Linked DNA regions of Homo sapiens. Changing the gene in region 3 together with the main gene of any one other region gives a genetic interaction. Each region holds a gene or a part of one and is shown on either strand. Other genes may lie near its edges.

Region 1 (6,424 bases), on a different chromosome or scaffold from region 3:
TGGCAATTGAACTACAACATGAGTTTTGGAGGGGCCAAACAACATGCAAACCATAGCAGCAGGTTTAAAGGTAAAAGGATGGGAGAAAAGTACACAGAAAGATATTCTGGAGAAAAGGCACAGAGTGAGCCAAGGCACAAGGTAAAATGTTTGACTGGTTAGAGACGCTAGATTATTTTGTGTGGCTAAGACAAAACAAAGCTGGTGGGGAGTGGCAGGAGGTAAGTCTAGAATGGCACAATGGGGCCAGACTGCGAATGGCAAACAAGTATGTGATCTTTTATTCTAAAGAAAATGTAGTATGATTAGCACACACACACACAAAAATTATTGGCCGGGCGCAGTGGCCCATGCCTGTAATCCCAGCACTTTGGGAGGCCGAGGAGGGTGGATCATGAGGTCAGGAGTTCAAGACGGTGAAACTCCATCTCTACTAAAAATACAAAAATTAGCCAGGAGCTGTGGCAGGTGCCTGTAATCCCAGCTACTCAGTAGGCTGAGGCAGGAGAATCACTTGAACCCGGGAGGTGGAGGTTGCAGTGAGCTGAGATCGCGCCACTGCACTCTAGCCTCGGCGACAGAGCAAGACTAAAAATAAAAATGAAAAAATTATTATCCATGGTATTATCATGGTAGTACTGACTAAAAGAGGGACATGTGTAACAAAATCAGTAAGGAGGGTACTCCAAGAATCCATGTTAAAGTTAATGAGGGCTTGAACCCAAACATAAAGGATGGAAATGATGTAATAAAATACCTTTTGAAAGTTATATTAAAAAATTTTTGGTTAATAGTCTAGTTAGAGGTGAAAGAAGAAAGCAGAGGAGTCTAATGCAATGCGTGACTTGTAGCTCAGGTAAAGGGGTGGCAGGTGACGCTTAAATACTAGAAATATAAGAAGCAGCACAGGTTTGGTTTTATCTTTGAGAACAATGGAGTGGAGGTATGCTTTAGATGCAATTATTTATGGGATATTCAAAACAGATATATATGAAGCAAAAAACTTGGGCCCAAAAAACAAGTTTGAAGGTATATTTGGGAGTTACCAGTAATATAGGTAACTGTTGAAGCTCTAAATATAGAAGACAAACTAGAGGAGCTTGTTTCTTGAAGAATTCTTGTCACACTTGACATTTTTTACAGAGATTTCTTAAAACAGGGGCATATCTTCTTTGGCTAACATATGCAGACTAAAATGAAAGAGTATAGTATATTATAAAATCAATAAAAGGTAAGATAAATTTAGGCCTAAAAATAAAGAATAAATACACTCAGTTGATTCTGAAGCTCTAATTTACAGATGCAAAATTGTACCAGTACATTAACTCATATGTCAAAACAACATCTAGAGAAACAAAAAATGAAAGTAAAATGGAAAAAGATAAAAGAAGTGAGGCAAGGAGAAGAGAATGGACAAAAGGAGATAGGAAAAACAGGAATTTTTTTTTTAAGGGCTAAAATTTTAGTGAATCAGATGTGGAAAACAGTTGGATTAACATTGAGATCAAATGAGAAAGGAGCAAATAAGGAAAGAGGTATTACAAACCAAGAGTAAAAAAGGGAAAACAAAATAACAAAAGCAAAAACTATTTAAAAAGAATAAAGGAAGACGTGATAATGAAGTAAATTTAAAAAGTACGGAATAATAAAAAGAAATTGCAAAAAATAACTTTTGAAAATAAACATACTAATAACTTGACAATAAAGTGAAATGTGTAAGACAAACGTATCTGTGTCATTATTTAGGAGTAGTGAAAAGTACTCTTAAATAATAATTTGGTATCTAGCAGGCCTGGATTTGAATCTACTTTAACTTGCTAGCTATGTGACCTTGGGCAAGCAAAGAAACTCCTCATAACCATTGTAATAATACCAGCAAAATGCCTTACACTTACGGCTCAAAAAATGAAGGAAATGAGAGAAAAAAGTATAGATTACTATATGGAAGTCAAATTTCTAGTGACTTTTCTAATCCAAACATGAATTGTTACAGTACTTGAAATAAACTTTATGAGAACTGAGTGACTACATTGCTTCAGATAGTTTTATACTGCTAGGTCAACGCTGCCTGACAGTAATAAGAATAGGATGTGAGATTCAATATGCTCATTCTATCTCAAACTCTGTCACACATACAATGACTGCTATTTACCTTCCTCCTGAGCCATCTGGGAAAAAACCAACCAACCAACCAACCAAACAAAAGAAAAACCCACCAGGTAGGAGTCAGTTAGTTCTGCTAACTAACTAACCAAAAACCTTAATTGTATGGCCATCAGCACCCTAGCCCTTTGTCATGAAAGCTACCAATAAGGTGGAAATTTAAAATATGAGATATTTTATTATACATGTTTTATTAAACCCTATATGTGCAGAAATGATTGTCCATTTTCCTTCTTAACTTGCTTTTGTAAGACTTATTAAGTAGAAAATATAAATCTCAAGCTCCTTAAATGTGATTTTGAGGAACTGAGACCAAAACAATTTTTTGCTGTGGAACCAGATCCTTGAATGCACTACAGGAAAATATTATTTGATATGAAATTTTTTTGGTACACACAATTTTTCAAAAATATATCTCTCTCCACAAAGTTAATTCAAATTGTAGAATTCTTCCAAGTCACAGATGGAGTTTTCAAGGCTCTGGGTACTTACCTTTGAGTTCCACATCCTTTATCTCTGGAGCTCTTAACTGAGGGAACATGGACCATTAGGTCATGAACAGACTTTGTAGTCTTTGAACAGCCTGAAACAGTATGTGATACTTGATGTGCATGTACACAGGAACATTTTTCTAGAGTAATGGCACATACCTTTCATCAGATTTTCAAAGGTTTCTCAAAATGCTCAAGAACCATTGTTAGATATTTAAATAACCAGAGTGTACAGTGTCCAAATATTTCCAAATTTTGACACTTGTAAGATGTCTTAATTAAAACAAGCCATGAAGTTCAGCGTCACAATAACCAGAAAAGCACTTGTGAGAGTAGTTCTATGTCTTTACTTCCTAGTGGTTTACACACTCTTTAACCCATATGGCAATCTGGCTTCTGTCTCCAGTGCTCTGGAATTACTTCTGCCTGTATGATTAAGTTCCTCATTGTTAAATTCGAAAATACATTCTTTGGTATTTATTTGACCTCTTGGTGGTAATATAGCGTAAGAGCACAGACTCTGGAGCCAAACTGCCTAGGTTCAAATCTTAGCTCTATTACTTTCTAACTCTGTGACTTTGGGCAAATGACTTAACTCTCTCATGCCTCAAAGCAGAATCCTTTGTAAGGTTTATTTATATAGTGGTGTAAAGAGTACTTACTTCAAAAGCTTTGGTCAGTGTGAGAAATAAGCTCCTAACAAAGAAAGTGTTATGTAATAGTTATTATCTGGTACCTCTGATCACAACATTTTTGAAAATCACTTGAAATCTGCCTAAGTTTCATTCTGCCTTTGATGGCTCCTTATTTTCATCTCCCTACTTCAGGCTTCCTCCCTAATATATCTTTTATGCCAATATTATGATCACTTGAAACTATAAATCTGATGCCATCCTTGGCCACTACCATTAAGATGGTCTAAACTCCTCAGCATGATAGACAAGTCCCTTTATGATAGTGTACCCATCTAGTTCTCATTCCTCAAGTCTCCTCTGTTGTCTATGCTTACCCTATGGGCTAAGCTGAATCAAGCTGTTACATTTCCAAAATATGCCTCACTGTCTTTATTCATGCCTTTGCACATGCCATTGACTCTTCCTAGAATGCCCCATTCTCCTTCTCTAGAAAGTCTTCTCTTAACATACTTCTTCCCAAAATAAATTAGGTGTCCTTTCTTAATATGCCTCCAATAACCCCATACAGTATTTATCCCATTCTATTTTAGATGCCAGTTTGGTTGATGATACATTTCATCTAGTCAGATCTTCCCACTGCCTCTTATAAAGAAAACCAGGAGCCATATTATGATATTCTTGTTCTCTAATTTTTCTGCTGCCCTGATCTTAAACCACTTTCTTCTCCCTTTGTTGACAATTACCCCACCCCTTATTTCTTAATTAGCCCAACAAGATTAGATAGAAATGTATCTACAAAGGATATATGTATATAAATTAACTAGATAACAAAACTTCACACTGAAGTGAACATTCTACAAGTATTTATTTCATTGCTGACCATTAGGTTGCAGCATGCAACTCTCAACAATGAGCTGCCCCTCTCCACTCCTATAGAAGCTCCAAATACTATGGTACCACTATGTAGGTTTTCAGCCTTTCAAAGGCTTTTATTATTAACATCATCATTACTTCAGCAGGAGCCTTTTAGGGACTTAAAAGCACTGATTATCTATAAAAAGTAACTTCATATTTCATGCACAAAATTCCCAATTGGCAGATTTAGGTCCATAAAAGAAAGGAAAAAAATTATTCTAGTTATATAAATTATCAGGAATAAAATAGCATTTCTCCTTGCCTTGTTATAAGGAAATAATATATTTTTCCTTACCAGGAATCAGGATAGTATCTTTGATGATCCCTCAGGGTTATAAAATTGCTTACTGGTTAAAGTTTTTTGCCAAAGATATTAAGAAATAAAAAGTTCGCTCATTTTCCTGTGCAATTTAAAGAAATATTTGCAGTATGTACAGGAATTTTAAGTTATATTGCAGACCCTGGCAATAATATTTAAAAGGCCTATTTTCCCCATTAAAAAATTCTACCTCAGAAGGTAAAAGGAAATCTCCATCATCCCTGAGCAGAAAAGGAAAAAATCATGGGTACTTTAATTAGTTAATAGAAACCACTGTAAATGAGTTATCTATCTCCAGAACATTCTCAGAGAATTTACACGAACTAAAACAGGAATGAAGTGCTCTCAGAGACTTTTTCTCAGGTAAATGTATTTAGTAGTTTGAGTAGTTGATCTGCAAAAACTTTAACTTTAATTAACTACATAGATGAATATTTTTTATTTTGAAATTTGAGAATGTCCTAAGAGGATGTCTACAGGATATGAAACTACTGGGTGCAGGAAAATTTTTTAAATGTTAGCAAATTGTGGCAAGAGGAAAACAAACAGTGGAGAAAACTGTGGTAGAGAAAGTAAAGAAGGGGCAGGAGAAAGCTGTAATTATAACCTGGGCCTGCCTTTGTTCTCATGAAGCCAGGGGCCTCTCCATATCCTATACTTGCTCTTACGCTAATAACAAACCAAATGCTGCAAAATAAAAGTAATAATGACCCAAACTAATTTAAGTCTTTTGTTTAAGGAGTAAATGAGAGAAACATTTTAGCTTCTTAATCAAGGAGTGCTATAATTTCAAGGCATCTTAATATAATTCACTTACCCTAAAGCAATTGTGCAATAAGCAAATTATAAAAGGAAAACAACAAAGGTTAACTTTCTACAGGGGCCAATAGACAAGATCTGTGGAGCACAGCAATTAACCTTCACATACTGGAGTCTTGTTTAAAAGGCCATCAAAAACTCAGATTACTGAAAATCACAAATGTCACCAACAAAAGGAATGTTGATTAGAGTCAAAAAAAAAAAAAAAAAAAAAAACACCTTCCCAAAGGACTGCCTTCTTTGAAGGAATTTCAGAATGTTGCTAGCACAGGTTGACTAAGTTAAATCTCATTGATGGCTCCATCAGAGAATGAGAATGCCCCAGCCAGTGCTGTTTTTAAAATGCACTGGGAGGGAAAAAACGAAATTAACAATCTACTATTCCCTAATATATATGGCTTGGCACCCAGAGAAAGCCTCTGCCCCCGAAAGAGACTTTCTACATAGGGTTAAGCTTCATTAAATGAGGTGCAACCTTTCATTTTCAGGGCATCTCTTTTCTTGCAAGGTCTTTAGAGGCAGAAGTTCCACTTGGATTCTAATACACATCTCTGTGAGCTCAGTTTCCTGAAAATATACACCTACTGGGTTCTAGGTTCTCCCTTACCAGTGACTGTATTCATTATTTCACAGCCACCAGAATCGGACATACACTATTAACATGATGAAAAATACAGCTACTGCTGCAAGTTTGGCATAAGTGGAACGCATGTTCAAGTACTTCGCATCCTGGCGGTATTTCTTGGACAGACTGGACAAATTGTTAGCCTTTGAATCCAATGCTGTCAAAGAGGAAAAAAGGAAAACATTAATTAGTCCCTGGAAGTATTTTACCGAAAGTATTAAGGCAAACCAAAATGAGCAGCACTGCAACAACCATGAATCTTAAATCATCATTTTTATTTTAAGGCTAACATTGCATATACTAATTAACTGATGATGCTGATCAGATGATGTCTGAATTTTTGAGGCTATATAGTAAGGTGGTTAGAAGTGCAGGTTCTGGCCTCAGACTCTTTGGTTCAGATATCACCTGTACAAGTTATGTGACATTGGTCAAGTCATGTAACCTATTTAAAACC
Region 2 (3,500 bases), on a different chromosome or scaffold from region 3:
CTCCCCTTATCCTTTCTGATAAATTTGAGAATCATTTTGACAACCACCAAATATTATTCAAATTAGGATTTTTTTTCTTTTTTTCTTTTTTTTTTTTTTTGAGACAGAGTCACGCTCTGTTGCCCAGTGGCGAGATCTCAGCTAACTGCAACCTCTGCCTCCTGGGTTCAAGTGATTCACCTGCCTCAGCCTCCCGAGTAGCTGGGATTACAGGCGCCCACCACCACGCCCGGCTAATTTTTTTGTAGTTTTAGTAGAGACAGGGTTTCACCATGTTGGCCAGACTGGTTTTGAACTCCTGACCTCAAGTGATCCGCCCACCTCGGCCTCCCAAAGCGCTAGGATTACAGGTGTGAGCCACTACGCCTGGCCCACATTAGGATTTCTAATGTCACTGCAATGACTGCAATAACTAGGGGTAAATCCATAATTTTACATTTCTGACATAGGAACACGACATCTGTTTACTGAAATCTTCTACATCTCTCAGTACAGATTTGTAGTTTCTCTATATAGGCCCTGTGTACTTCTTTTAAAATGTTAGTTTTTTATTTTTTATATGTCACATTACTTTCTGAATGAGATCTTTTCTTCCTATTACATGATCTGTTTCTTTCAGATACACAGGAATACTACATTTATTTTTGTATATTTACTTTGTAATTAATCACCAAACTGAACTTTCCATTTAGGATGTCTTAGTCTTTATTCTCTTGGATTTTCCATTATTTGCTAATAATAATCATTTATCTCCTCCAACATTCATACCTCATCTTTTCCTTCCTGTTTGGTCTTATAGCAATGACTGTAACTTCTAGAACACTTTTCAATAGTTGTGATGGAATGCCTTTTTTGCTTTCTTCATGATTTTAATAAAACAACAGCCAAGAAACAGTAGGACTTAGATGGAATTGAGGATCAATTTTATTCTGGTTTATATACTAAGCAATGAGACTGGGGCAACAGTAGAAAAATCAGAATATGGGAGACTCAGGGTTTAAAAATATCATGGGGCCGGGCACGGTGGCTCATGCCTGTAATCCCAGCATTTTGGGAGGCTGAGGTGGGCAGATCACTTGAGACCAGGAGTTTGAGACCAGCCTGGGTGACAGAAAGATACTCTGTCTCAAAGAAACAAAAAAACAAAACAAACAAACAAACAAAAATCATGGGTCAAGGGAGAAGAAAATCTATAGTTGTCATCAAGGCAGCAAGATACCCATAGACTTGAAGCTGGTGATTATTATTAAGCGGGGGCTAAGGGCTACCCCAATCAAGCCCTACTTATGCTTAGTGTGGTTTGCAAATAATAATAAAAAAAAACCACAACTACCTTAATTCTCTAAACACACAGAAATGATTTACAGGTCACCAGATGACTGAATAGGTAAAATAACAACTCAATATTCCTTGAATAACTCACAGTAGTTATAGCTGAAAGAATGTAAACTATCAATTTGGCAAGGCTTACACTGTGTTCTAAGTTTAAATTCCAGCTTACTATAATCACAACATCACTTTTATCACCAATGTTTTTTACTTTGCCCTCAAATAAACTTACAACTGGCTTATACAAATAAGAACAGGGTTTTCAATATTTAAGAAGGATTTAAAAACATTTAAGTATAGAAACAGAATGGTCAAATTTTACTTCCACTATTTATAAAGGAATTTTTAGCAACAAAGCATAGAGAATTTTTTTAAAGCAATCTACTCTTCACTTGGAACCAGATAGCAGGTATTGTTTAATCCCTCTTCTAAAAATTCTATACACCATAATTCAAAATTTAAACATCTTCATTTACAGTGTGCTCAGGAAGTATCTCATCTCATCTCTCTTTTTTCCCCACCAAATTTCAGACAGATGTTTAGTGGCTTTTTCTTTTCAAAATCAGTATATATTTCATTTTTTTTTTTTTAAAGAAATAGCCCCGTGTGGTAGCTCTAGCTCATGCCTGTAATCCCAGCACTTTGGGAGGCCGAGGTGGTTGTATCTCTTGAACCCAGGAGTTTGAGACCAGCCTGGGCAACATGGCAAGACCCGCCTCTCTACAAAAAATACAAAAATTAGCTGGGTGTGGTGGTGCACACCTGTGGTGCCAGCGACTTGGGAGACTGAGAAGTGGGATGATCACTTGAACCCAGGAGGTCGAGGCTGCAGTGAGCGGTGATTGTACCACTGCCCTTCAGCCTGGGTGACAGGGTGATATCCTGTCTCAGAAAAAAAAAAAAAAAAGAAAGAAAGAAAGAAAAAAAGAAAAAAACCTATTACATATACAACTTATTTTGCTTTTGAAACAGAGTTCTCACTCTGTCATCCAGCTGGAGTGCAGTGGTACAATCTCTGCTCACTGCAACCTCTGCCCCCCAGGCTCAAGCCATCCTCCCACCTCAGCCTCCTGAGTAGCTGGGACCACAGGCATGCACCACCATGCTCAGCTAATTTTTTGTATTTTTAGTAGAGACGGAATCTTGCCATGTTGCCCAGGCTGGTCTCAAACTTCTGAGCTCAAGTAACCTGCCCACCTCAGCCTCCCAAAGTGTTGGGATTAAAGGCGTGAGTCACCACACCTGGCCTATATATGCAACTCTTTAAAAGTAGCATTATAAAACTAGATTTATTGGGAGGCTGAGGCGGGTGGATCACCTGTGGTCAGGAGTTCGAGACCAGCCTGGCCAACGTGGTGAAACCCCATCTCTAAAAAAACATAAAAAATTAGCTGGGTGTGGTGGCAGGTGCCTGTAATCCCAGCTACTTCGGAGGCTGAGGCAGGAGAACCACTTGAACTCAGGAGGCGGAGGTTGCAGTGAGCCAAGATCGTGCCATTGCACTCCAGCCTGGGCAACAAGAGCAAAACTCCGTCTCAAACAAACAAACAAAAAACAAAACAAAACAAAACAAAAAACTAGATTTAAATGACACCCTGGACTTTTTACATGGAAGTGGGAAGACATTTTAGAAGCAATGAAATTATATTCCTAAATTTAAAACCAATAAAGTAGGCAGAGGGTACACACATATTTCTCTCTCCCTCTAAATACATAATTTATGTACATCCCTAAACTTTGAGGAACACACAGGTTTCCCACGTTGTCTTCCACTTTGATGGCTACACCACGGTGAGCTCACAGCTCAGCAAACATTTAGCAGGGATACTAAACTCTTCTTTTTAGAGACAATTCCAGATCTTTGAATTTGTCCTGTCTTGAATTCAGGGCAAGATAAGCATCTCCTCCCCACCCCTAACCTTGCCCCCTTGCCTGGGAAAGACGGCAGGGCAAAGCTGTTCAGCTGTCTACTAGGCTGACAACTCACAACTGGGAATGAGAAGTTAATGGGCTAGGTGATGTTTGGGATAGCGGGACTAGTTAGTTCTATACCATTTAATAAGCTCTGAAAGAGGTGCGTGGACCCAATTATTGGTGGGGATATATATAACCTTCTTTAGTCTTAGTTTTGGACATTAGGTGTCAATTTTAAGGAAAAAGAAGTCTCAGTA
Region 3 (6,424 bases):
AGTAAAAACCTATGCTACACATTAAAACAATGTAAACATGTTTTAAAATATGCATTTCTACTTTATTAATTGTAATTTATTTACATTATAAAACTAATTGGGATTGGATTTTACTATGAAAACAAAATAAATACATCAATATATACACAAAATATACCCTATATTTGTGTATTTAAAAGCAAATTCATGGCATATTAAATTCAATATCATACACATAACCGCTGGAGGGAAACACTGTTGAATACCACATGCTGATTTCAAAATGAGTTTGTTAACTGGACTGACAATTCCCATCATTTATCAGTCTGATTTAAAACAAAAGATTTACTAGATAAGTAAGTGTTCCTTGATGGAGATGGGAGAAAGTTTATTGTGTGTGTATGTGTGTGTGTGTGTATATATATATACATATATATATTATATATATGTATATATATTAATTATATATTATGTATATATTTTATATATATATGTTACCTATATATATTATATATATGTATATATATTAATTATATATTATGTATATATTTTATATATATATATGTTACCCATTTTCTCCCTGGTTAAATATGATTAAAATACTTGGTATTAGCAACATCTAGTGTTTTCAAGTTAACATCAAACCACTCAATACATTTTCAAGTGAATGATCATTTCTTCAAGTAACAATGCTGTCTTAAGCACTTAGTACTTGATTTATGATGTGTTTCTTGTCTTCTGTAATTAACTTAATTTGGCAAACTTCTCATGACCTGTTCAGAAAGATTAAGTGATCAAACACAGGTAACATCATAGAAGTAACAAGCTTCAGGAATTGGTAACCTGTCTCTGACCCCTCTGGCTACAGCTTAACATTATGATTCCCTCACTTCCTACACTCTAAACCATTAGATTAGTTTCTGTAGCTGAATCCTGATTTGAAAAAGTAAATAAAGGATGTTTCTAGGGGAAATGCCAGAGGAAAAAGAAAAAAAGCTTCTCATAAAAATCAAGATCACCTTGCCTTTCAAAAGGCATCACGAATTTAAGGAATTCATATGTTAAATATGGTAACAGCAATATCACATTTAAAATTTTGTCTTTTTATAATTTCCCCTGAGGACTAAAGGCTGTGAGGCATGCTTATTACTTCTGTTATCCAGTTAATAAATTCACTTACACAAGGATTTACCAGAAACAGAAAGCTTTTTCATTTACCACCATTTATGAAACATAAATAGGAACGGTCCTAATCAGATACTTAAAGGTCTAATTCTGAGAAAAAGTTTTATGGGTTGGGGGAGGGGTACAGAATAGGACATCACATAGTAACATTACCACGTAACATTTATTCTAATTGCTTTTAAATAGCAAAGTAAAAATAAAAAAAATTATGTAGAGCTAAAACCATAACATGTATTTTTAAATACAGTATTTTTCTTGGTTTATACTTAAACATAAAAATAATACAGTGTGATCTTTTAAAATTAGCTAATTTTAAAGAGTCAACTGAGATGGTGTCAACATTACTCACAACCAGTGCAATTTAGAATAAACCAAATAAATTTACTTGTGTCAGAACAAATAAAAGAAAGTTGGAAATACAAATCTATCACTTCAAATTTAATCTGACATGCAATTATTCTGTCTATTCCAGAATTGTATGGCAATTTAACTGATTAAGTCAGAATCATTTTTTCCCTCAAATCATGATTTAATTTTCTGTTTCCCAAAAGGATAGTAACAGAATCACTGCTGCAATCATAAATATCATATAAATCACTAGCACAGATTTACCAGTGCAACAAAGAAGGATTTATCTGGAAAATCATTGTGAGTAGGTTCACATTAAAGTTTTTCATGTGCATTAATCAAATGTGTCTGCTTCTACTGAACATGCTAAACCAATTACCTAATTGACGAGCAAATAGTAGCCATATTCTGTTTCATCATTAAGTGGAAACAAAGAAAGAAAAGCAGTTCTTGAAACCTAATTTTCCCTAATTTATAAATACGTAGAAAAATCCCATACGAAATATTATATACTCTATACCGGTTTATATTCCTAGATATGATTAAGAAATTCTCACTGAGATCCCAAAGATTTACCTAGTTATCAAGAATGTCATTCTCTGAAAGTTATATACTCTTTTACATTATTCACAAATACTGTATTTTTGTTTTCATACAGTTAGATTTTGCTTAAGTAAATCTTTCATAATTCTCTGTAAGATCTATAAGAAAACTCACCAGAAAAAAACACAAAAACAACCAAACAATAAAAACTTGCTTATCAAATTCAGAGGTCAGTGATTCATGCATTGTAATAACTGAGATACCTTGCTTGGGCTTAAATTTACCTTTACATAATTTGTGGAAAATACATGGGTAGACAAAGTAATAGGAAAAATGAAATGGACTGTAAATGAATGAATCTCAAAAACATGCTGAGTGAAAGAAGCCAGACACAGAAGAGCACATAACCTATGAACTCATTTATACAAAGTTATAGCACAAGCAAAACTAATGTTTGGTGATAAAAATCAGATCAGTGCTTGTCTGTCTCCCAGTGGGGGATGAGGTTGACTGCAAAATGGCAGAAGGAAAGTTTCTTGGGTGATGGAAATGCTATTTTGAGTGGGGGGCTGGTAAGGGGATGTACACATTTGTCAAAACTCAGACTGTATACTTAAAATATATGCACTTGATTACATGTAAATTATATCTCAATATACCTCAAGGGGGTCTTGTCACACTGAAGAGACAGGGAAAAGGAAAAACATAATAACTTATGTTTTAATTTCTTTAATTCTCAGAATATTTCATTATGGCCATCTTGCAGAAGAAAAGATACAGCAAGAGATGTTAGGTAATTTATCCAAGTTTGCATAGCTAATAATTATATCAGAGTCAAAATTTGAACCCAGACAACATGGGTTCAAATCTGTAATCTTCTCTTTACTACATTGAACTAGCTTCCATGGACGGGACTCATGATGGAACACAAAGATGGACAGAAACACTGGATATCCATATGGGGAGCAATGGACCCCCTATTTCACATCATACATAAAAATCAATTCCAGGCCAGATGCGGTGGCTCACACCTATAATCCTAGCACTCCATTGGGAGGCTGAGACAGGAGGATTACTTGAGGCCAGGAGTTTGAGACCAGCCTGTGCAATACAGCTGGACCTCATCTCTACAAAAAATTTAAAAGTTAGCCGAGCACGGTGACATGCGTCTACAGTACCAGCTAGTTGGGAGGCTGAGGCAGGAGGATAACTCAACCTGGGTGGTTGAGGGTGTAGTGAGCCATGATCATGCCACTGCACTCCAGCCTGGGCAACAGAACCAACCAGATTCTGTCTTAAAAAAATAAAAATTAAAAATTAAAAATAAATCAATTCCAAATGGGTTGTGGATTAAATACGAAAAGTAAAAGAATAGAAATTCTGAAGACACACAGAATTCTTTATGACCGTGAGTAGCAAAAGATTTCTTAAACAGAACACAAAAAACACAAACAAATGACTGAGGCATTCGAACACATTTCATTTCAGAACTTCTATTCATCAAGATCATATGAGCAAAAAAGTAAGAAGTTATACATATTTGCTTATACATATAACTAAAAAAGGGCTCATAAGCAAAAAACTAAAGAAATAAGTCATGCAAACCAATGAGAAAAACATTTCACGAAAGAGGACATCCAAATGGCAACTGATCATCAGGGACATGCAAAATAAAACCATGAAGTACCACTCTACACATGTACCAGAATGGCTGTAATTACAAAGACTGACAGAACCATGTGTTGGTGAAGATGTGGGGCTATTAGAACTCTTACCGCTGGTGGGAGTAAACTAATTTGGAAAATTGCCTTTAACTACTAAAGTTAAATATACATACATTCTATGACCCATATTTTCACTCAAAGGTATACAGAACTGCACATATATTCCACCAAAAGACCTGTACAGCAATATTCAGTATAGTTTATTCAAAATAGCCCAAACAGAAAATATTCCAAATGCATAGCAATAACTAAATTATAACATTCATACAATGAACTACAGAAGAAAATGAATGAACTACAGACACAAACAAGGATAAATCCCATAAACTGAATAATGATAGAAATATGCAAGACAAAAATGAATACATACTGGCTGATTCCATAAACTATAGGGTTATAAGTGAGTACTCTTAAGGAATACAAAAGGAGAAATTAAGAGGACTTACCAAGAGAGCTTTGGGATGCTGCAATGTTTATATTTATTAGCCTGGATACATTTACCTTATATTAGTCACTGAAAGGCACATTTATGACTTGCATCCTTTTTTCTGTTATAATTCTTATTTCTATGTTATTAATTTAGTAAAAATTGATTTTAAAATAGTTATGTCAAAAAAGCACTCTGAGTAGCTGTTTCTCATATCTTAAAAACAATTATGTAGTATGCATAACGTTACTTTTATATTACACAAATCTTTTTTTTTAATATTACATAAATCACACACACCCACACACCCCCAAGCCTACTCTGTGTGGAACTCCATTACAGATCTGAGCTATCCCAAACTGCATTTGAAGAAGCACAGTCTCACTAATATTTATAAATACTCTGACTTAGAATATGCCAACAAAACTAACATGCTCTATAACAGACAATAAAAATACACAAAGGTGACTTTCAATGATGTGATTATGGAGGCACTACATTTGTAAAATCTTCTCAATTTTCTCCAACCAGAAGGGCAAAAACGAACAACAAAAAGCCAGCACCAAAACCAACATAACAGAACCCACGCCCACAGGTGACATTTTCAAAAAAACTAGGTAACAGTCAATTTTCCAAACCCTAGAATGTGACTATGTCATCAAGAGCAGCATGACCAACAAAAGATTAACAACTGTGTGGTAGGAGGAATAGAAAGTAATAGAGGACAACCTACTACTCTACAAGAAACCAAAAACCAAACAAATTATGAATTCTTAATCCACTAAACAAGAAAACCTGAGATGATGCAGCTGCCAATGGCCTAGAAGTCTTCATAAGCTCCAAAACAAAGATAAATGTAAAAAACTGCTCATAAATGTGAGATTAGACAAGTCTAACCGTCTAATATCTTAAAATTTCTAAAATATCTAGCAAACATCCTCTTCCAGAAGGACAAAACCTCACACCCTGAAGAAAAACAATTAAAAACTGAAACCAAACTGAACAGGGCAGAAACACCAGGGCAAGAAGGAGAGATGGTTCAGACAAGGAGGGGTGAGGAAAGGAGTGATGCCCAGAGGCAGCAATCCCAGAAGAAAACAAAACAAAAAGGAAGAAACACAAACTGTAACAACAATATGTAACATTTAAAGTGAGAGCAACACCTCAGAATTCAAGACTTTGAGGGCTCTAGAAACAGAACAGAGGGCTGAAGCCAGAAAATCTTTCTGAGTCACACTGAGTTCTAAGACAGACTGGCCATTCATACTCAGTTCTAAGAAAGACCGGCTATACAAAGAGGTCATATTTGAATTCTCTTTAGCAAAAAAGGAGACGGCCATAGAATAGCCAAGCTGGGAAAGCTACCCTAACCTATCTCCAACTCCCTGCCATTCCATAAACATTGTCTCCTAATAGTCCAGGAAAACTACCTCATTTAAACATGGAGGAAAGAAAAATATGAATCAAATTCATATTTTTATAAAATACAGAAAATGACAAAATAATTTGAAAGAAAATGAATAAAGGACATAGAAAAATGAAGTCTAATACACGTATTACTGAAACCCTGAAAAAGAAAACTAAGCAGAGAAAAAAATATTTGTAATTCTAAAAGCAACTTTTCTCAAATAAAAGGGCTAAACTGATGTACTAAATGGGTGTACTGTGTATTTGGGAAAACTGACCCAAGAATAATCAATAAAACAAATCATAGTAAGACTACTGGATTTTAAAGATAAAGAAAAAATTCCTTTGCGTAACCAGACAAGTCACTTATGATAAAAAGTAAGTCAAGACGGCATCATATTTCCTGACGGCAACATTTTATTCTGAAACAGAATGAAATAGCTGGGCATGGTGATGCCTGCACCTGAAGTCCCAGCTACTTAGGAGGCTGAGGTAAGAGGATCACATGAAGCCAGGAGTTCATGGCCAGCCTGGGCAATATAGCAAGATCTCGTCTATATTAAAAACAAAACAAAACTGAACAGTATGCTTAAGATACTTAGGTAAAGTATTAACGGGTATATAAAAAGCCAAATTGTCCTTTAAATATAAAGGCTATAGACAAATAAGGCTAAAGACATAAAAAGATGTGTTTTCCCATGAGCAAATTTCTAACGAAAAATAATTTCCTAAAAAATCTGCTAAGGACGAACTTTAGAAAACTAAGATACAAATGGAGAAGTTTCAGTAAAGGATCTGAAGTGTAAGCAGA
Region 4 (5,914 bases), on a different chromosome or scaffold from region 3:
CAAATAGCCAGATGAAAAGATACACAGGATGAAGCCTAGAAGAGTCCCAAGAGCAGGAGCTTCTGTCTGCAAGGAGTTGCGAAGTGCCATTCTCTCAGCATGTGGACGTGTTCTTGTCCACCTTCCTGGAAGCCCCCACACATTTGGCTATCCACAAGCTCTCTGAACCCTGTCCTTTTGGGTTTTTAGGAGCCCTCATTACATAGGCATGATTGATTAAATCATTGGCCACTGGCGATCAACGTCACTTTCAGTCCCTCTCCCCCAACCTCTGGGAGTTTGGGGGGTGGGCTGAAAGTTTCAACCCCTCTAATCATGCCCTGGTCTTTCAGATGTCCAGTCCCTATCCTGAAGCTACATAGGAGCTGTCCGCCATCAGTCATCTTACTAGCATACAAAAAGACATCACTTTAGAGATCTCAAGGATTTTAGGAGTTGTATATCAGAAGGCAGAGACAAAGACCAGATATATATTTGATAATATTACAGTAGAAATAAAGACATTTTAGATATTCAAGCTCAGGAGGCTACTAAAGGACAGGCTCCATCAAGAAGAGAAAACCAAGCAAGAGGAAAATATGATTCAGAATCCAGGAAATGTCCAAGTTATGGCAAGAAGACAGGGGGTTCTCAGGAACATCTCGAAGAGAAAGTGGAGCATATTACCTGATGCACATGACTTTGTTGGGAAGAGCTTTACATTTAGGGCAGCGACTTTTGGGTAAAGTAGTGACAAGAGCATAGAAAACCAAGCAAATGAGAAAAACAATGTAATTAACTCCAGGAAAAATCAAAAGTTGTACCTAAAGGAAATGTAATCATAAACCAATAAAGGGCTCAACAGGAAATGGTAAACATACAGTTATACTAAACTGTGAATGCAGGTTTCAGCCAATATCAAACTGCTTAGGGAGACTAATAGGAGAGGAAATGTGGGTGTCGAGGGTGGGGGTGATAATATGTTGTGGGAAAGACAGTGTAAGAGAAGCTAACTCCTCTTCCATTGTAGGAAGTCAACAATGTCAAGTCAAGATTAAGAAATAGCATTATTTAAGTCTTTACATGAAGCTAATCACTAAAGATCCCTGAGTTGAGTAGTGTGTGTTTGGAGAAGCAGGGATTGATTTGGTGGAGGAAGAGGTTCTCTTCTTAGTGCTGTTGTTTTCTCAGTGAAATAAGGAGGACATGATCTAAGAATGTTGGAGGTTTGAAGAGAATGAGAAGACATGAAATAGAGTCTGGGGATGTAGGATTACAGTCAGGAGATGCTGAGTGCCAGTTTAAGATTGGTGGTCATACGCAACATCACCAAGTCTATTAATACCTCTTTCTGTATATGGCTCAAATTTTATCCCCTCTCTTCACACCAATTGCTAACAAACTCACGCTTATTCCCTTTGAATTTCACCTGGATGGCTGCAGCACCCACCTCTCAAGATTCCTGCCCTACATGCCATTCTTAAAAGAAAATGTGACCAGATCACTTCTCTGCCTAATCTTCAACAACGGGTTCTCACAGCTCTCAGAAGAAGGTGACAAGAATCTCTGACCTCACCCTGCTGGCCTGTTCCCCTCACCTGGCCACACAACCAAGCTGGTACCTCCACGCTTTCATCATGTCCTCTCAAGTACACTGTCTCCAGCTACACCCCTGCACTCCTCTCCGGGAATTCTGTTTCTCCTCTACCCAACCAGACCCTGTTCCATCCTCTGTTTTTTCCTTGCTACCAATTCAGGCCCACGCCTCATGCACATTCTCTGAGAATTATGTACATAAGTACCTGACTCTCCTGGATGTAAGCTGGGTGGGCTTAGCAGGCAGAGGCCCTGTGTCTTACTTTATCTCTGCATCACTGATGTCTGGCACATCAAGGACTGCAAGTTTGCTGAGAGAATGAATCGCCTTTTATACATGGAAATGTAAGCTCTAAACTGCCTCAGAGCATATGCTGGTGGGTGACAATCTGAGGAGGTCATGAATATAGGAGAATATTGAAGAGGTCACACAGGGGAAACAACTTTTCATTATGAAAAACTGGGAGACTGACATTTAAATGGTTTATCTGCATGATTAAATTAATCACATTTCCAACAGTGCATCAAGCATCTGAGAATAACATTATTTTGAGTAAAAACAGAAACTCTTCGGGAGAGACCCCCTCCCCACAGGTCAGGCTGCTCAAATGTCCACCATGTCTAGCAGCGCAGAGAGATGGAGCTCAGAGGCAACTTCCTCTTCCCTTGAACTCCGGATCAGCCTTTCCAGGTGCTTTAGTCGTTCGCCTAGACACGTTCCTGTCGCCTCTGACAGCTGCAGTTGCTCCCTCATCATGTCACTCTATTTGAATAAAAAAGAAACTGAACAGTTTTGGGATGTCAATAAACCACGACCTATCTCTGGGAAGGTACTAGATCTGGATCATGTTAGAAACCTCATCTGAGTAGTCATTTATTTTTACAGAGGGAAAAAAATTATCCTTTGTATATCCTTCCAGCCTCATTTAGCTCGTACATTCAGCTGGTATCTGTATATAGACTGTTTGCCTTTGTATTCTATCATGAACAATTTCCAGTGTCAGTCATTTTTCACCCAGGCTGGAACGCAGTGGTATGATCGGAGCTTACTGCAGCCTCAAACTCCTGGGCTCAAGTGATCCTACCAGCTCAGCCTCCTGAGTAGCTGGGACAACAGGCATGTAGCACCATGCCTGGCTAATTATGTACTGTAGAGATGAGATCTCTTTATGTTGCCCAGGCTGGACTCAAGCTCCTGGACTTAAGCGATCCTCCCTCATCAGCCTCCCAAAGTGCTGGGATTACAGGCATGAGCCACCACGCCCAGCCAGTCATTTTTAGAAAATATCATCGTCAAGGGCTGTGAATTATTCTATCACATGAATGTGTTATAATTGTTTAATCAGACTCCCATCTTCGGATATTTATTCTGTTTCGACTTTCATACAATAATGCTACAGTAAACATTTTTATACATTAATTTTTGGGGAATATCTGGTAGGTCAGAATTCTTTAGGTTAGAATTGGTAATTCAAAGGGTATGAATATTTTTAAAGTATTTGCCAAACTGATGAATGGAAACAGTACATCATTTTAATTTGCTTTTCTCCTCTATTGAAGGACTTCCTAAAGCCAGTCCAGGAGCACAGTTTTTACCTGTTCAGTGGCACATATCTGTGATTGAAACTCTGTTTTTGCATCTTTAACCACTGAAGGAAGAATGGTAAGGTAAAAAGACCTTAGGCTTTGGAGCCAGTTGGATCTGGCTTTGAAAAGCAACCTGACCACTCACTACTTGAACACTCTTGGGTGAGGCTCTTGACTTCTGGGAGCTTACCTTCCTCATTCATTAGTTTTCCTCAGGAAAAATTAATCCCAGAAGAGAGGTCTGGGTAATGCCAAAGCTCAGACAATATGTGCTCCAACAGAAGCTGCTGTCATCACCTTAATGCCCTTAATTACACATCAGCACACAGTTACAGGTCTTATTCAGTTCTTAAGAATATTTCAATTCTATTCTTCATTTATTTCGTAGGCAGAAACTCAAAATCAGTTGGGTCTCTTTAACAATGATATGGATAAAGTTTAAGAAAAGGTCTAATTTGAGCTAATAATTTGTCGGTCATCAAAACATCATAGGATAAATCGTGATATTACTTTTTTCCCCAGCCATTCTCTCAATCTTTAATTCTTATGTAAATGCCAAATGTATACGTTCTTCTCACCTGTGGGCTAGTAGTTACAGATGTTTTCATCACAGGTTCAATAGTGTGAGAAAGAGACACTAGAGTCTGAGGAAGATAGAGGGGAAGGGAAGTTAAATCCGTAAATGCTCCTGAGTCTTCAGACAACCATTGCTGAAGCTGATCTTCAAACCTGAAACAATATGTAATAAATTCAAAAATATTTGAGCATTAGGAAGTTAACTATTGTTCATTAATCTTCTATATATACTTAAAAACTTTTTAAGCCTTTGCTTTTTTAAAATTTTATATAATTTTTTTTTTTTTTTTTTTGAGACAGAGTCTCACTCTGTTGCCCAGGCTGGAGTGCAGTGGCATAATCTCGGGTCAGTGCAACCTCTGCCTCCCAGGTTCAAGTGATTCTCCTGCGTCAGCCTCCTGAGTAGCTGGGATTATAGGCAAGTGCCACTGTGCCCAGCTAATTTTTTGTACTTTTAGTAGAGATGGGGTTTCACCATATTGCCCAAGCTGGTCTTGAACTCCTGACCTCAGGTGATCCACCCACCTCGGCCTCCCAAAGTGCTGGGATTACAGGAGTGAGCCACTGTGCTTGGCCAATTTTATTATTATTTTTTTTTGACAAGGTCTCGCTCTGTTGGCCAGGCCGGAGTGCAGTGTTACAATCTTGGCTCACTGCAACCTTGACCTCCCAAGCTCAAATGATCTCACCTCAGCCTCCCAAATACCTGGGACTAGAGGCGCATGCCACCCAGCTAATTTTTGTATTTTTTTGTAGAAACGGGATTTTGCTGTATTGTCAGGCTAGTCTACAACTCCTGAACTCAAGTGATGTGCACACCTCAGCCTCCCAAAGTGCTGGGATTATAGGCATGAGTCACCACACCCAGCCTTAAGCCTTTGCTTTTTACTAAGAATATAACTAAGTTATGACATCAACTGAGAAGCAGAAATGTACTTATTAAAAATTTAACAACTTCCTATGATAAAGCTTAATTTAAAAAAAAAAACTAGGCTGGGCTCGGTGGCTCATGCCTGTAATCCCAACACTTTGGGAGGCCGAGGCGGGCAGATCACCTGAGGTCAGGAGTTCAAGATCAGCCTGATCAACATGGTGAAACCCCGTCTCTACTAAAAATACAAAAATTAGCCAGGCATGGTGACACGTGCCTGTAATCCCAGCTACTTGGGAGGCTGAGGCAGGAGAACTGCCTGAACCCGGGAGGCGGAGGTTGCAGTGAGCCAGATCACGCCATTGCACTCCAGCCAGGGCAACAAGAGCAAAACTCCATCTCAAAAAAAAAAAAAAAAAAATTAGAGAAACCACTTCCCTTTAATTTATAAATCCAATTCCAATTTATATTTAATGAAAAAGGTGGTATTAATCCAAAAACAACTGCTTCGATGTGTTACTTAACATTACTTGTAATTGTCTTGTTTGGCTTATCTTATTTAATTTACTTTGGTTTTATGCATCTATAATTAATTCTTCTGACATTTTCCAAATGAGTGGATTGCTGCTTATAGCTTAAAATTAACTCAAAATAATATCCCACTGCCACCTAACATACTCTAGAGCTGTCTACTTCCATATACCGGTCTTTTCAAGAAAAACAATCTTGGCCAGGTGCAGTGGCTCATGCCTGTAATCCCAGCACTTTGGGAGGCCAAGGCAGGTGGATCACCTGAGGTCAGGAGTTCAAGACCAGCCTGGCCAACATGGTGAAACTGCGTCTCTACTAAAAATACAAAAATCAGCCAGGCATGGTGATGGGTACCTGTAGTCCCAGCTACTTGGGAGGCTGGGGCAGGAGAACTGCTTGAACCTGGGAGGTGGAGGTTGCAGTGAGTCGAGATTGTGCCACTGCACTCTAGCCTGGGCAACAGAGCGAGACTCTATCTAATAAAAAGGAAAAAAAAATCTCATCCCAAACCACTTAAATTATAGAGACTGATTTTAGTAATCGGACACATTCATTCACCCTTCCAAAACATATTCATTAAGCCTCCTCCAGATGCTAGGCATCATTCTAGGTACAAGGAATATTGCACTGAAACAAAACAGAGGCCCTGCCCTAAGCAATTTATACTTTAGTGAGGAGAGACAGACAAGGAACACATAACAAGAGAAACATGGTTTGAAGATGAGAAAGACAAAGCAGAGCCATGGAAACAAGAAGGTCGGAGATGGGCAAGCA
Region 5 (6,424 bases), on a different chromosome or scaffold from region 3:
TTACTAACTTCTTGCATTTGTATGGTGTATGGCATTTTATGCTTTTAAAAGTGCTTTCCGGTCGGGCGCGGTGGCTCACGCCTGTAATCCCAGCACTTTGAGAGGCCGAGACGGGCGGATCACGACGTCAGGAGATCGAGACCGTCCTGGCTAACACGGCGAAACCCCATCTCTACTAAAAATACAAAAAATTAGCCAGGCGTGATGGTGGGCGCCTGTAGTCCCAGCTGCTCGTGAGGCTGAGGCAGGAGAATGGCGTGAACCCGGGAGGTGGCACTTGCAGTGAGCCTAGATTGCGCCACTGCAGTCCAGCCTGGGGGACCCAGCGAGATTCCATCTCAAAAAAAAAAAAAAAAGTACTTTCCCGGCCAGGTGTGGTGGCTCACGCCTGTAATCCCAGCACTTTGGGAGGCTGAGGCGGGCGGATCACGAGATCAAGAGTTCCAGACCAGCCTGACCAACATGGTGAAACCCCGACTCTACTAAAAATACAAAAATTAGCTGGGCCTGGTGGTGGGCGCCTGTAATCCCAGCTACTCAGGAGGCTGAGGCAGGAGAATCACTTGAACCTGGGAGGCGGAGATTGCAGTGAGCCATGATTGCACCACTGCACTCCAGCCTGGGCGACAGAGCGAGACTCCAAAAAAAAAAAAAAAAAAGCTAGTGGAGGGTGACTTGGATAGTAGTGATTTTTTTTTTTTAACAGAGGTACAAGTAACAGGTTCAGAAAGATCCTGGTCATACAATCAATTAGTAGCAGATTTGACAGATCCCTTGATTTCTCTTGTCTGCATAGCATTACTTCAAAATTCTAGCCTTAGCTATGACTTCTGGTATTTGCTTCATAGTAAGTTTCATGCTAAAGCATGGTTCATAATGGGTAGAAAATCAAGTTTTTTGGCTGGGCGCAGTGACTCATGCCTGCAATCCCAGCACTTTTGGAGGCACAGGCGGGCAGATCACCTGAGTTCAGGAGTTCGAGACCAGTCTGGCCAACACGGCGAAACCTCGTCTCTACTAAAAATACAAAAATAAGCCAGGCTTGGTGGCACCTGTGATCTCAGCTACTTGGGAGGCTAAGGTAGGAGAATCGCTTAAACCTGGGAGGTGGAGGCTGCAGTGAGGTGAGATGGTGCTGCTGCACTCCAGCCTGGGTGACAGAGTGAGACTCCATCTCAAAAAAAGAAAAAAAAAATCATGTTTTTCATTTGTGGTTTTATTTCCCTCCATTTTTTTTCTTGATTGATTCAGAATAGATGGTGAGCTTGGAGGGAACACTCAGCCCTTACAGAGAGCATTAATTCAGTCTCAAGTAATAGTTGCTAACCTGTTTCTTTCTTTTTTTTTTTCCTCTGTGAAGATTCCAGAAGTAACTAACCTGTTTCAACCACATGCTGATATAGCCAGAGACATCACTAATGTGCCAAGGTTTCTCTTGGAGCTTGAGCTGCAGCTCTTTACCTGCAGTTTTGTTTTTTTTGTTTTGTTTTTTGAGACAAGGTCTTACTTTCACCCAGGCTGGAGTGCAGCTCACTGCAGCCTCAGTCTCCTGGGGTCAAGTGATCCTTCTATTTCAACCTCCCGAATAGCTGGGAAAAGGTGTGCACCACGACGCCTGGCTAATTTTTAAAATTTTTTGTAGAATTGGGGTCCCACTGGCTGGGTGTGGGCTCATACCTGTAATCCCAGCACTTTGCGAGGCGAAGGTGGGCAGATCATGAGGTAAGGAGTTCCAGACCAGCCTGACCAAAATGGTGAAACCTCGTCTCTACTAAAAATACAAAAAAATTAGCTGGGCGTGGTGGCACACACCCGTAATCCCAGCTACTCAGGAGGCTGAGGCAGGAGAATCGCTTGAACCCGGGAGGTGGAGGTTGCAGTGAGCCAAGATGGTGCCGTTGCACTCCAGCCTGGGCGACAGTCAGACTCTGTCTCAAAAAAAAAAAAAAAAAGAATTGGGGTCCCACTATTGCCCAGTGTGGTCTGGAACTCCTGGGCTCAAGGGATCCTCCTGCCTGGGCCTCCCAAAGTGCTGAGATTACAGGTGTGAGCCACTGTGCTCAGCCTAATTAGCTATTCTTATTTATTCTGTTTTCTTGTTCATTCCAAGCCTATTCATTCATTCACTTATTCAAATATTTATTAAGCCTTTACTATGTTCTAGACACTGTTCTAGGTGCTGGGGATTTAGTAGTGAATAAACAGCTATGCCCTCATGGAGATTACATGGCACAGGAGGCAGACGATAAGCAGAGTAAATAACTAAAATATATACTACATTAGGTAGTGGTAAGTGCTAAGAAGAAAAATAATACAGGGGGCTGGACACGGTGGCTTAGGCCTGTAATCCCAGCACTTTGGGAGGCCGAGGCGGATGGATCATGAGGTCGGGATTGAGACCATCCTGGCCAACATGGTGAAACCCCATCTCTACTAAAAATACAAAAATTAGCTGGGCATGGTGGCATGTGCCTGTACTCTCATCTACTTGGGAGGCTGAGGCAGGAGAATCACTTGAACCCAGAAGTTGGAGGTTGCAGCGATCCAAGATTGTGGCACTGAACTCCAGTCTGGTGATAGAGTGAGACTCCGTCACAAATGAAAAAAAAAAGAAAAATAATACAGGGAAGAGGACTGTGGAATATTTATGTGGTGTGAGGAGGAGGGTTTGAAATTTTAGCGATGGTGCCGAGATAACTTTATGAAGATGACTAAGTAAAGGCCAGGAGCAAAGTAAAGGAGCTAGCCATGAGGGTATCTGTAGGAAGAGCATAGAGCATTCCTGGCAGAGGAAACAAGTTCAAAGGCCTTGAGATGGGAGGATGTCTGGTATGTTTGAGGAACAGTCAGGGAGGCCACAGTGGTTGAATAGTTGCACATGAGATCAGAATGATCAGGGGAGGACAAATCATGTACAACTTCACAGGTTTTAGGAAGGACTTTGGCTTTTATTCTGAGATGGGAAATCATTGGAGCAGAAGAGTGACATGATGTGACTTAATGGCGTAATAGGATCGTTCTGACTACATTGTTGTGAAAGACTGAAGGAAGAGTGTGTCTGGAGTTGGTTCCTTCCGGTGGGTTTTTGGTCTCTCTGACTTGAAGAATGAAGCCATAGACCTTCGCGGTGAGTGTTATAGCTCTTAAAGGTGGCACAGACCCAAAGAGTGAGTAGCAGCAAGATTTATTGTGAAGAGTGAAAGAACAAAGTTTCCACAGTGTGGAAAGGGACCAGAGCAGGTTGATGCTGCTGGCTGGGGTGGCCAGCTTTTATTCCCTTATTTGTCCCCGCCCACATCCTGCTGATTGGTCCATTTTACAGAGTGCCGATTGGTCCATTTTTACAGAGTGCTGATTGGTGCATTTACAATCCTTTAGCTAGACACAGAGTGCTGATTGGTGCATTTTTACAGCATACTGATTGGTGCATTTACAATCCTCTAGCTAGACACAAAAGTTTGCCAAGTCCCCACTCCACCCAGGAAGTCCAGCTGGCTTTGCCTTCTTAAGAGGACAAGGGCAGAATTGAGGAGACCAGTTAGGAGGCTGTTTTAGTAATTAGGCAAGAGATAGTGGGTTGTACCAGAACAAGTGTCAGATTTTGGATGTGTTGTGATGGAAGAGCCAATAGGATTTAATGATGCGCCAGATTTGGGGAATGAAAGAAAAATGAGTCAAGGATAACACCAAAGTTTTTGGCTTATGAGTCTTCAAGAGTTGGGTTGCTATTAGATGAGAGAGGGAAGATTTACATTGGTATTCATCCTTCTCTTTCCAATCTGATGTCACTTTGGGGCCCCTCCTTTAGCAAGAGGTTCCTAATCTTAAGTGTCCTGTGTCTGTAGCTTACCATTTTTTTGATTAATGACTGGTTAGAGTATGATACTGGAGTTTGAATGTGGTAGTTTAGAATTAGTAATATAATTGAATTGTCTTTCCCTGGCAGATTAATTTTGCATTGTTTGAATCAGTGCATTCATGAGTTGTTGAAATCATGAATGAAAGTAGTACATGTCATTATCTTTCCACCATTTAGTAGTTTAGAAAAATCACATAAAAATGATTGTAATATCTTATGACATTGATAGAAAATATCAAAGTGCATCTCTCTTATCAAGGGTAAAATTTTGTGAAACTTTGTTCAGTTATATATAATGTATTTTTTTTTCTTTTTTTTGGAGACAGTCTGGCTCTGTTGTCCAGGCTTGAGTGCAGTGGTGCCATCTTGGCTCACTGCAGCCTCTGCCTCCTGGGCTCAAACAATCCTCCGCCTCAGCCTCCCAGGTAGCTGGGACTACAGGTATGTACTACCACACCCTGCTAATTTTTTTGGTATTTTTTTTGTAGAGATGGGGTTTCATCATGTTGCCCAGGCTGGCCTCAAACTCCGGGCTCAAGTGATCCTTCCGCCTTGGCCTCCCAAAATGTTGGGATTACAGGCATGAGCCACTGTGCCTGGCCTATAATATCTCATGTATATGGTGTTTATTGGATTGCAGTGTAAAATTATTTCCTTACTGGGTATTACAAGTGAAAATTTGGAAGCCATTGACTTGTGTATAAATAGTCATTTGTCAAAAGAGTAACTTGAAATAACATTGTGATATTTTAAAACTTTTTTTTTTTTTTTTTGAGACAGAGTTTCACTCTTGTCGCCCAGGCTGCAGTGCAATGGCATGGTCTCAGCTCACTGCAACCTCTGCCTCCCAGGTTCAAGTGATTCTCCTGCTTCAGCCTCCTGAGTAGCTGGGATTACAGGTGAATGCCACCATGCCCGGCTAATTTTTCTATTTTAGTAGAGATGGGGTTTTGCCATGTTGGCCAGGCTGGGCTTGAACTCCTGACCTCCGGTGATTCACCCGCCTCGGCCTCCCAAAGTGCTGGGATTACAGGTGTGAGCCACCATGCCCAGCCCTATTTTAAAGCTTTATATGTGTATTTATTTATTTATTTATTTTGAGATGGAGTCTTGTTTTGTCGCCCAGGCTGGAGTGCAGTAGCATTACCTTGGCTCACTGCAACCTCTGCCTCCTGGGTTCAAGCGATTTTCCTGCCTCAGCCTCTGGAGTAGCTGGCACTACAGGTCCCTCCCACCACACCTGGCTAGTTTTTATGAGATGGGGTTTCACCATGTTAGGTAGGCTGGTCTCGAACTCCTGACCTCAAGTGATCTGCCCACCTTGGCCTCCCAAAGTGCTGGGATTACAGGTGTGAGCCACGGCACCGGCCTATATGTGTTTTTAGAAACTGTCACCATAAATGAGAATATTACTTTAGGAACCATCTCATAAATGGGATAACATTTTATTAACCCAACAAATATTTGTTAAGTTCTATATAGTAGTAGGCCCTGGTGGTGTATAAAAATAAACATAAACATGGAACCCCAGCCTGGGCGACAGAGTGAGATTCTGTCTTAAAAACAAAACAAAGCTGGGTGCAGTGGCTCACGCCTGTAATCCCAGCACTTTGGGAAGCCAAGGTGGACAGATCACTTGAGCTCAGGAGTTTGAGACCAGCCTAGGCAACATGGCAAAACCCCATCTCTACAAAAAATACGAAAATTAGACGAGCATGGTGGCATGAGCCTGTAGTCCCAGCTCCTCAGGAGGCAGGGGTGGGAGAAGGGCTTGAGGCCAGGACATCGAGGCTGCAGTGAGCCGAGATAGCACTACTGCACTCCAGCCTGGGTGACAGCGAGACCCTGTCTCCAAACAAACAAAACGAAAATATCCCATGATACTGCCTTCTTGAAGCTACCATTCTAGAGGAGTCAAAACAAAAACAGACAGATGAAATAATTTTAAATTATGGCACTTTTATGAAGAAAACAAATGAGTTGAGAAAGAAAAATCAGGAAAGATTTAATTTAATAAGAGTGATCTGGGAAAGCCTCTGTGAGAAGATAACATTTAATTGAGCTGATGGTCATGAACCTGATTTGGAAAGAATACAGAAAAGAGCATTCCAGCAGCATTTGAAGTCAAGCAAGAGTTTGGCACATTAGTGGGACTGAAAGAAGCTGTGTCTATAGTGAATGAAGGACAAGAATGGCCAGAGAGCTAGGCGGGACCCAGGACATGCAAGGTCTGGTAGGTAGTTTGGATTTGATCCAAAAGGTAATAGAAAACCACTGACATGTTTGAAGATGAGGGATGACATTGAAGCAATTTACAGACAGTCCCTGACTTACTAGGGCTTGACTTAAAATTTTTTGACTTTACCATGGTGTGAAAGTGATATGTGAGTACTCATACAAGCATTCTGTTTTTCACTTTCAGTATGGTATTCAATAAATTACATGAAATAGTCAGCACTTTATTGTAAGATAGGCTTCATGTTAGATGATTTTGCCCAACTGTAGGCTAACGTAAATGTTCTGAACACATTTAAGTTAGGGTAGGCTAAACTCTTTCAATCCCAA

The links.
Region 1: changes in EMC2 (region 3) and SEC22B together harm fitness more than expected from each alone (negative genetic interaction), as found in Homo sapiens cells (one large-scale study listed by BioGRID).
Region 2: changes in EMC2 (region 3) and MBTPS2 together harm fitness more than expected from each alone (negative genetic interaction), as found in Homo sapiens cells (one large-scale study listed by BioGRID).
Region 4: changes in EMC2 (region 3) and MCM3AP together harm fitness more than expected from each alone (negative genetic interaction), as found in Homo sapiens cells (one large-scale study listed by BioGRID).
Region 5: changes in EMC2 (region 3) and CYB5B together harm fitness more than expected from each alone (negative genetic interaction), as found in Homo sapiens cells (one large-scale study listed by BioGRID).

The regions. Positions count from the first base shown.
Region 1 is NC_000001.11:120,151,069-120,157,492, forward strand, and holds part of SEC22B (vesicle-trafficking protein SEC22b), read right to left. Parts: intron 6,125-6,424; coding exon 5,970-6,124; 3' UTR 1-5,969. UniProt on the Homo sapiens protein: SNARE involved in targeting and fusion of ER-derived transport vesicles with the Golgi complex as well as Golgi-derived retrograde transport vesicles with the ER.
Region 2 is NC_000023.11:21,863,617-21,867,116, reverse strand, and holds part of MBTPS2 (membrane-bound transcription factor site-2 protease), read right to left. Parts: intron 1-3,500. UniProt on the Homo sapiens protein: Zinc metalloprotease that mediates intramembrane proteolysis of proteins such as ATF6, ATF6B, SREBF1/SREBP1 and SREBF2/SREBP2.
Region 3 is NC_000008.11:108,479,527-108,485,950, reverse strand, and holds part of EMC2 (ER membrane protein complex subunit 2), read right to left. Parts: intron 1-6,424. UniProt on the Homo sapiens protein: Part of the endoplasmic reticulum membrane protein complex (EMC) that enables the energy-independent insertion into endoplasmic reticulum membranes of newly synthesized membrane proteins.
Region 4 is NC_000021.9:46,233,089-46,239,002, forward strand, and holds the end of MCM3AP (germinal-center associated nuclear protein), read right to left. Parts: intron 3,892-5,914; coding exon 3,741-3,891; intron 3,239-3,740; exon of another isoform or gene 3,136-3,238; intron 2,339-3,135; coding exon 2,180-2,338; 3' UTR 2,045-2,179; downstream 1-2,044.
Region 5 is NC_000016.10:69,426,059-69,432,482, forward strand, and holds part of CYB5B (cytochrome b5 type B), read left to right. Parts: intron 1-6,424. UniProt on the Homo sapiens protein: Cytochrome b5 is a membrane-bound hemoprotein functioning as an electron carrier for several membrane-bound oxygenases.